Regions from separate parts of the Homo sapiens genome. Here region 1 is linked to region 2. Evidence: fine-mapped expression QTL. A gene starts in region 2. The other region holds a variant in brackets. All regions are shown on one strand. Distances are from middle to middle.

The links.
Region 1: its variant is fine-mapped to the expression of CEP350 in whole blood (INTERVAL, PIP above 0.99).

Annotation. Positions count from the first base shown.
Region 1 is chr1:179,990,053-179,992,978 of GRCh38, forward strand. CEP350 (centrosomal protein 350) reads left to right here. Exons shown (of 38, transcript NM_014810.5): 4 at 455-569; 5 at 2,010-2,169. Among named protein-coding and RNA genes, the nearest start is that of CEP350, 37 kb to the left of the region's middle. The variant GTA/G (reference allele first, on the strand shown) is at 1,603.
Region 2 is chr1:179,953,540-179,956,465 of GRCh38, forward strand. CEP350 (centrosomal protein 350) reads left to right here and starts at 1,271. Exons shown (of 38, transcript NM_014810.5): 1 at 1,271-1,603. RefSeq lists an enhancer at 967-1,468 and a silencer at 1,256-1,705.

The sequences.
Region 1 (2,926 bases), 37 kb after region 2:
GTGGCGCACGCCTGTAATCCCAGCCTCTAGGGAGGCTGAGGGAGAATCTCTTGAACCCGTGAGGTGGAGGTTGCAGTGACCTGAGATCACGCCACTGCACTCCAGCCTGCGCGACAGACCGAGACCGTCTCAAAAAAAAAAAAGTCAGATAATTTACTACTTTGAAAATACTCAACAATTTAAAAAATAGATCAACATGTCAAATGGAAACTCTTTGATATTCTTCAGAATCTTACTGATTTTCTTGTCTAAATTTGGGGAGCATTGTGCCAGATGTTATTATAGCTAAAGTAAAAAATGATGAAAAACAAATATTATAAGAAAGGATTCCTGAGTTTTTTTCTACTTTGGAAAAAGGTATTGGGCAATATACTTTTAAATAACCATGTAAATTGATGGTAGCTGGATTATTTACAGAATTAACTTATGTCTTATGATGGTGTTTAAACTTTAGCTGAGACACATTGAAAATAAATTAGAAGTAGCCCCTACAAGTACAGCTGTGTGTGATTCTGTCATGGATACCAAGAAGTCTTCTACAAGTGCTACTCGAAAAATAAGTAGAAAAGGTATGTATGAAGTTACTTCCAAATATATACATATATTAAATATAAATTTTGACAAAACAGACAGCTAGATCTACAGGGGTGTGCCACCACACCTGGCTAATCTTTTTTTATCTTTTGTAGAGACGAAGTCTCTCTGTGCTGCCCCAGCTTGTCTTGAACTCCTGGCCTTAAGTAATCCTCTCATCTTGGACTCCTTTTAAAGTGCTGGGATTATAGGTGTAGCTACCACACTCTACCTTAAATATAAGTTGTTGATGTAATAGTTTTATTTCAGTTTGATTTCTTCTTACAGTCTCGTGTTGTTTGCTTTTTTGTCAGAGACACTGGCATTTAATTTTTTTCCTTTGATATTTGGTAGCTATGAAGCAGCCTCATGTTCAGTAACCGTAGATGGTGTTTTCACCATCTTTTGACCAGGGACTTTAGCACTATTGCATCACCCTTGACAATGAGTTTTCATTTGTTTTTAGTGATGAGAGTTTCATTTTGAGGTTATATATGTCTGATTTTTTTTTTTAATTCACAGATATATAGCACTTTGGAAATGAAATTTAGTTGACTTAACGTATATTTTTCTTGGGATTTAAAATCATAAATGGAATCTCTTTCATATGGTGACTGTCATAAATTGATACAATGCAAATTTTTCTTGGGTTACCTTTTGTATTTTGATTCTGTGGTTTCTTTCTTTTCTTTTTTTTTTTTTTTTTTTTGAGACAGAGTCTCACTCTGTCGCCCAGGCTGAAGTGCAGTGGCATGATCTCTACTCACTGCAACCTCTACGTCCTGGGTTTAAGCGATTCTCCTGAGTAGCCGCGCCACCGGGCCTTTCTAATTTTTGTATTTTTAGAAGAGATGGGGTTTCACCATGTTGGTCAGGCTGGTCTCAAACTCCTGACCTCGTGATCCGCCTGCCTTGGCCTCCCAAAGTGCAGGGATTACAGGCGTGAGCCACCATGCCAGGCCATTCTGTGGTTTCTTAATTGGTGGGTGAAAACCTCCATGTCAGTACTCTCTACCTAAACTGTGATAT[GTA/G]TATATATATATGTGTGTGTGTGTGTGTGTGTGTGTGTGTGTGTGTGTGTGTATATATATATATATATACATTTTTTTTTAACCTGGGAGTTTGTTAGGTTGTATATGATACTTCTCTCTTAAGTGAGTGAGAGCCATGACAAAAAATAAATTTTATGTGTAGAATTTTATTTTGCATTGTTTCCTCAGAATACAATTTCTGTATCAATGGAGTTACTTTAACAATTTAACCTGAATGTTTTTCATGTACTTATATAATATCCAACTAGAGATACTAGAGATAACTTATATAATATCCAACTATTAGAAATAATAGATACCTAATTTTTTTTTTAAGATACCAGCCTAATTCAGAGGCAGTTGTATTTTATATTATATGTTCTCACAGATTTCCTTTTCCTTCAGATGGTAGATACCTGGATGATTCTTGGGTTAATGCTCCAATCTCCAAATCCACTAAATCACGAAAAGAGAAATCTCGTAGTCCTCTCAGGGCCACCACCCTGGAGAGTAATGTGAAGAAAAATAATCGTGTGGAATTTCGTGAACCTTTGGTTTCTTATAGGTTAGTATTGAGAAAAAAAAAAGGTATCAAATAGGTTTAGCCTGTAATATTTACAGTAAGAGTATACGTTGTTTTCTGAGTTTTTTATAGCACTCTGGTTGTGAAATAGTATAATACTCTAATATTACTACCTTTTTCATTCTCCACAAAAGATGGCTACAAAAGATAGTGCAAACATGAAATACTGACTGCAGTAGCCTCTTCTGCAGATAAATATTCGAGGGGGAAGAAATAGTAATAGTTGCCTCAAGCCACCTTTATTGTAATAAATACGTTTCCTAGAAACAAATTATTCCATCTCTGGAAGTGTGGCTTTTTTGTTTCGTCTTAATATCTCAGATCATTTATTTTATATAGTGAACTTTATATTGCTTACTTTTTTTCTTTTTTTTTGGGTAGCATTAATTAGTCACATAAAATTCCTATCTTATTGAGAATGTGAGTTGATTTATTGTTTTATTTTGTTGCCAATGGCTTTCAGCAACTTAGATGTTCAAGATTGATGTATGAATTTTGATAGCATAGATGATATAAAATGCTTTGCATTTTTGTTAACATAGCTTAAGATATTCAACTGATAAACTTACAGAATTTTGTATTTGAGGGACACTTTACTAATGATTTCAGTGCATTCATGCTCTTATAATAAGTAATAAACACTGGGCCTGTTTTTTTGTTTCATTTGTAAGCATTTTTTGGTGTTTTAAACACAAATCAAGAAGTTTCATGATGATACTTGGTAGTTCTAGGTATATGT
Region 2 (2,926 bases):
GAGATTACAGGCGTGAGCCACTGTGACCGGCCAGTACGTGTTTCTTCGTTTTAAAAAAGTGAGTATATTTAATAAGGTGGTTGTTTACATTCAGTAAAATAGCGCATGAAAAGCATCTAACACAGGGCTTTAAACAGCAAGACTGGGCAAAACCTAAATAACATTTTCCTTATGTTGTCTTTTTTGCTACCACTTGCACCATACGATTACCCACATTTCCTGTCCCCTCCAGTGCAGCTTCCTGGAGACACTTCACACGTATGCAGGACTTCTGTACATCCTACTCAGGCACAGCTGTAGGCCCTACAAAGAGGGACCATTTACTGCCTCCTGCTGTCATTGATATTCGACAAACATTTATTGAGCACCTACAATGTCCTAGTTACTGTGCTAGGCCATTTTGGGGTATAGAGAGATAAAACAGATCTTAAAGTCTTCACGACACTTAAAGATGAGAAACAGTCTCTGGGTAAATAACTATCGGAGTTCAGAAGGTGGACAGAAGTGGTGGGCGGCGAGTCTGTGTGCAGTGAGCACCTAGCGGAAGATGGCATTATTTGCAGAAGAGAGGTCCTTTAAGCCAAGTCTTGATAGATGATTTCACCACGCGGAGATTGGGAAACGAGGACAAAGATATGAGAAGATATGTTGGCCACAGAGAGCCTCTCAAAGCACTGTTAAAGCAAAGCCAATACTTAATGGGAGGAAACTCCGTTTTACTTGCGTGGAGTCTTAAGTCATTAGATGCATGCTAAACAGAACTGTAACCCTCGCGAATAAAACGGCCACAGTGACAGCAGTGGGTAACGGCAGAGCTGCAACTACTCTGACAGGGGTGACGACTTATTTGGACGACAGTTGGTGAAACATTGTAAACTCTCAGAAGCTGCCGTTTCCAGACTTTGAGTTCATTCTTGTCGAATCCCCAGCTTGTTTTCTCAGCCCGGGGTGAAATGCGCAGCCAAAAGGCCCAATGAGCGTCAAAGCGAAAGGGCAGGGGTGGTCTCTTCTGCGGATATACCTTGGCTCCTCCCAAGTCCTACGAGTTTAAACTTCGACGCACCAAACATGGCTTCTTCGCGGTTCTGCTCCTTGTTTTATTTCGCTCCCACCTTTCGGCCACACTCAACATGGCCCTAACCGAAGGTTGGCATGCCTGTGGCACTGTCTCGGGACAGTTCTCGCGAGGTTTGCCTGGGCCCGACTGCTCCCGCCCTGCCTCGCGCCGCCGCCACAGCCGCTGCCGCTGGCGCCGCTCCTCCTCCGTGTCAGTTGTTGGGCTGTAATGGCGACTGGGCCGCCCCTGACGAAGTGACTCCCGGGCCGGGGAGCGGGGCCAGACCTGCGCCAGAGAGAACTGCAGGGAGCCGCAGCTCGGGGGGTGGCTTGCCCTGAGGGAGGGGAGGCAGCCTTTCCGCCTTGTCTTCCTTCCCAGCGGACCGGCGGATCCCCGGAGCCGGTGCGAGGAGGGCACCCGGTGCGTCCCCGGAGCGGGGAGGCCAGGCCGGGCAGCCCTGGGGCCGGTCGGGGCGGCGTCACTGCACCCTCCGCCAGGCTCCGCGGGATGCACCGTGGTAGCCGAGGGCGGAGGCGACACTCTCAGGTGAGCTCCTGTAGGACCTGGCTGGGACCGCGGAGTCTCGCTCAGCCTCAACTGTCTCTGTCCGCGGTCCCGGGTCCCCGGTGGCGGCAAGAGAGGCGGGGCCGGGCGCGGAGAGTCTTGGCCCTGCTTGGCGTCCCCCTCGGGGAACCTCCCTGGGTTCTGAGGCTTTTCGGGGACCTAGGTTTCGGGTCCCACCAGTGCCTGCTGAAGACGGAATTTCCTTCCTTACGTGCCAGTGTCCTCCCGCCTCCTCCACCCCTCCTCTAGCCTGCAGAGGTAAGATACCTCTAGCCTTTGCTGCCCGGAGAAGTGTCCCTTCTTCATCTGGCGATCAGGCGTATTTGGGGAGATTCCGGGGACTGGCTCCAGTGGCAGGGATGATCAGTTTCTGTTCCTTTTCAGTGGGGATCACATTCTCAAGTATAGGGAAAACTTTGATCTACTCTAGTCTAGCGGCTGCTGAAGGTAGTTTATTCACAGATAATTTGGGGAAAGATTTAAAAGGCTTTATGTTTTGGAAGTTGTCAGTATTTTCCTCTGCCTTTTAAATGCAGCTCAACATGCTAAGTAATATTTAGCTAATGTCACAAGATATGAATTGGAATTTGCCTGGATTTTAAATATTCAGATAGAAAGTTGCACATAGGCATAGATTTTAATGTTTTAATGCAGTAGCAAATCCTTCATATGGGAAAAAACAGGTTGTCAGAAATAGTGATCAATATCCATGTACTCCACCTGATTGTTTTGTTTTGATGGTGATCCTTGTTTTGAATTTGGGGAAGTCGTTATTGTTGCCATGTTAACGATACCTCCTGCCCTGTATTTGAAGAGTTTTAAAAGAAAGACTATCTTTGGCAGAGCTAGTAACAATCTGAAAAGTTCTGTAGAAACAATGATAAAATACTAAAAGTTGCCCTCCATTCTGAAAATTTCTTCGTTTAATATATTGTTTTTAAACAAGGAAATGCACTGCTAATGACATGGAATTGTGACTTTGAGGGATTGTTAGACCCATGCTGGAAGTTGCTTCAAAGCCATGGGCGTATAATAATTAGTTTCGGTGTGCTAAATTGACAAATTTTATTTAATGTAATGAAATAAATCTGAATCATTTGAACTGTCAGTGCATTAAATTTAAGATACTGTAATCTGAAAATAAACTTCAAGCTAGAATACATTGTATATGTGGATAAATACATGTGTATCTCTGTATCTCTTCATCCTCAGTAGCAAAATTTTGTGTATGTAGAGATGGCAAGTTGTATATGTAAAAAATTTCATACGTATGTGAACATATTTCTTTGATTTTCTGAGATAAAT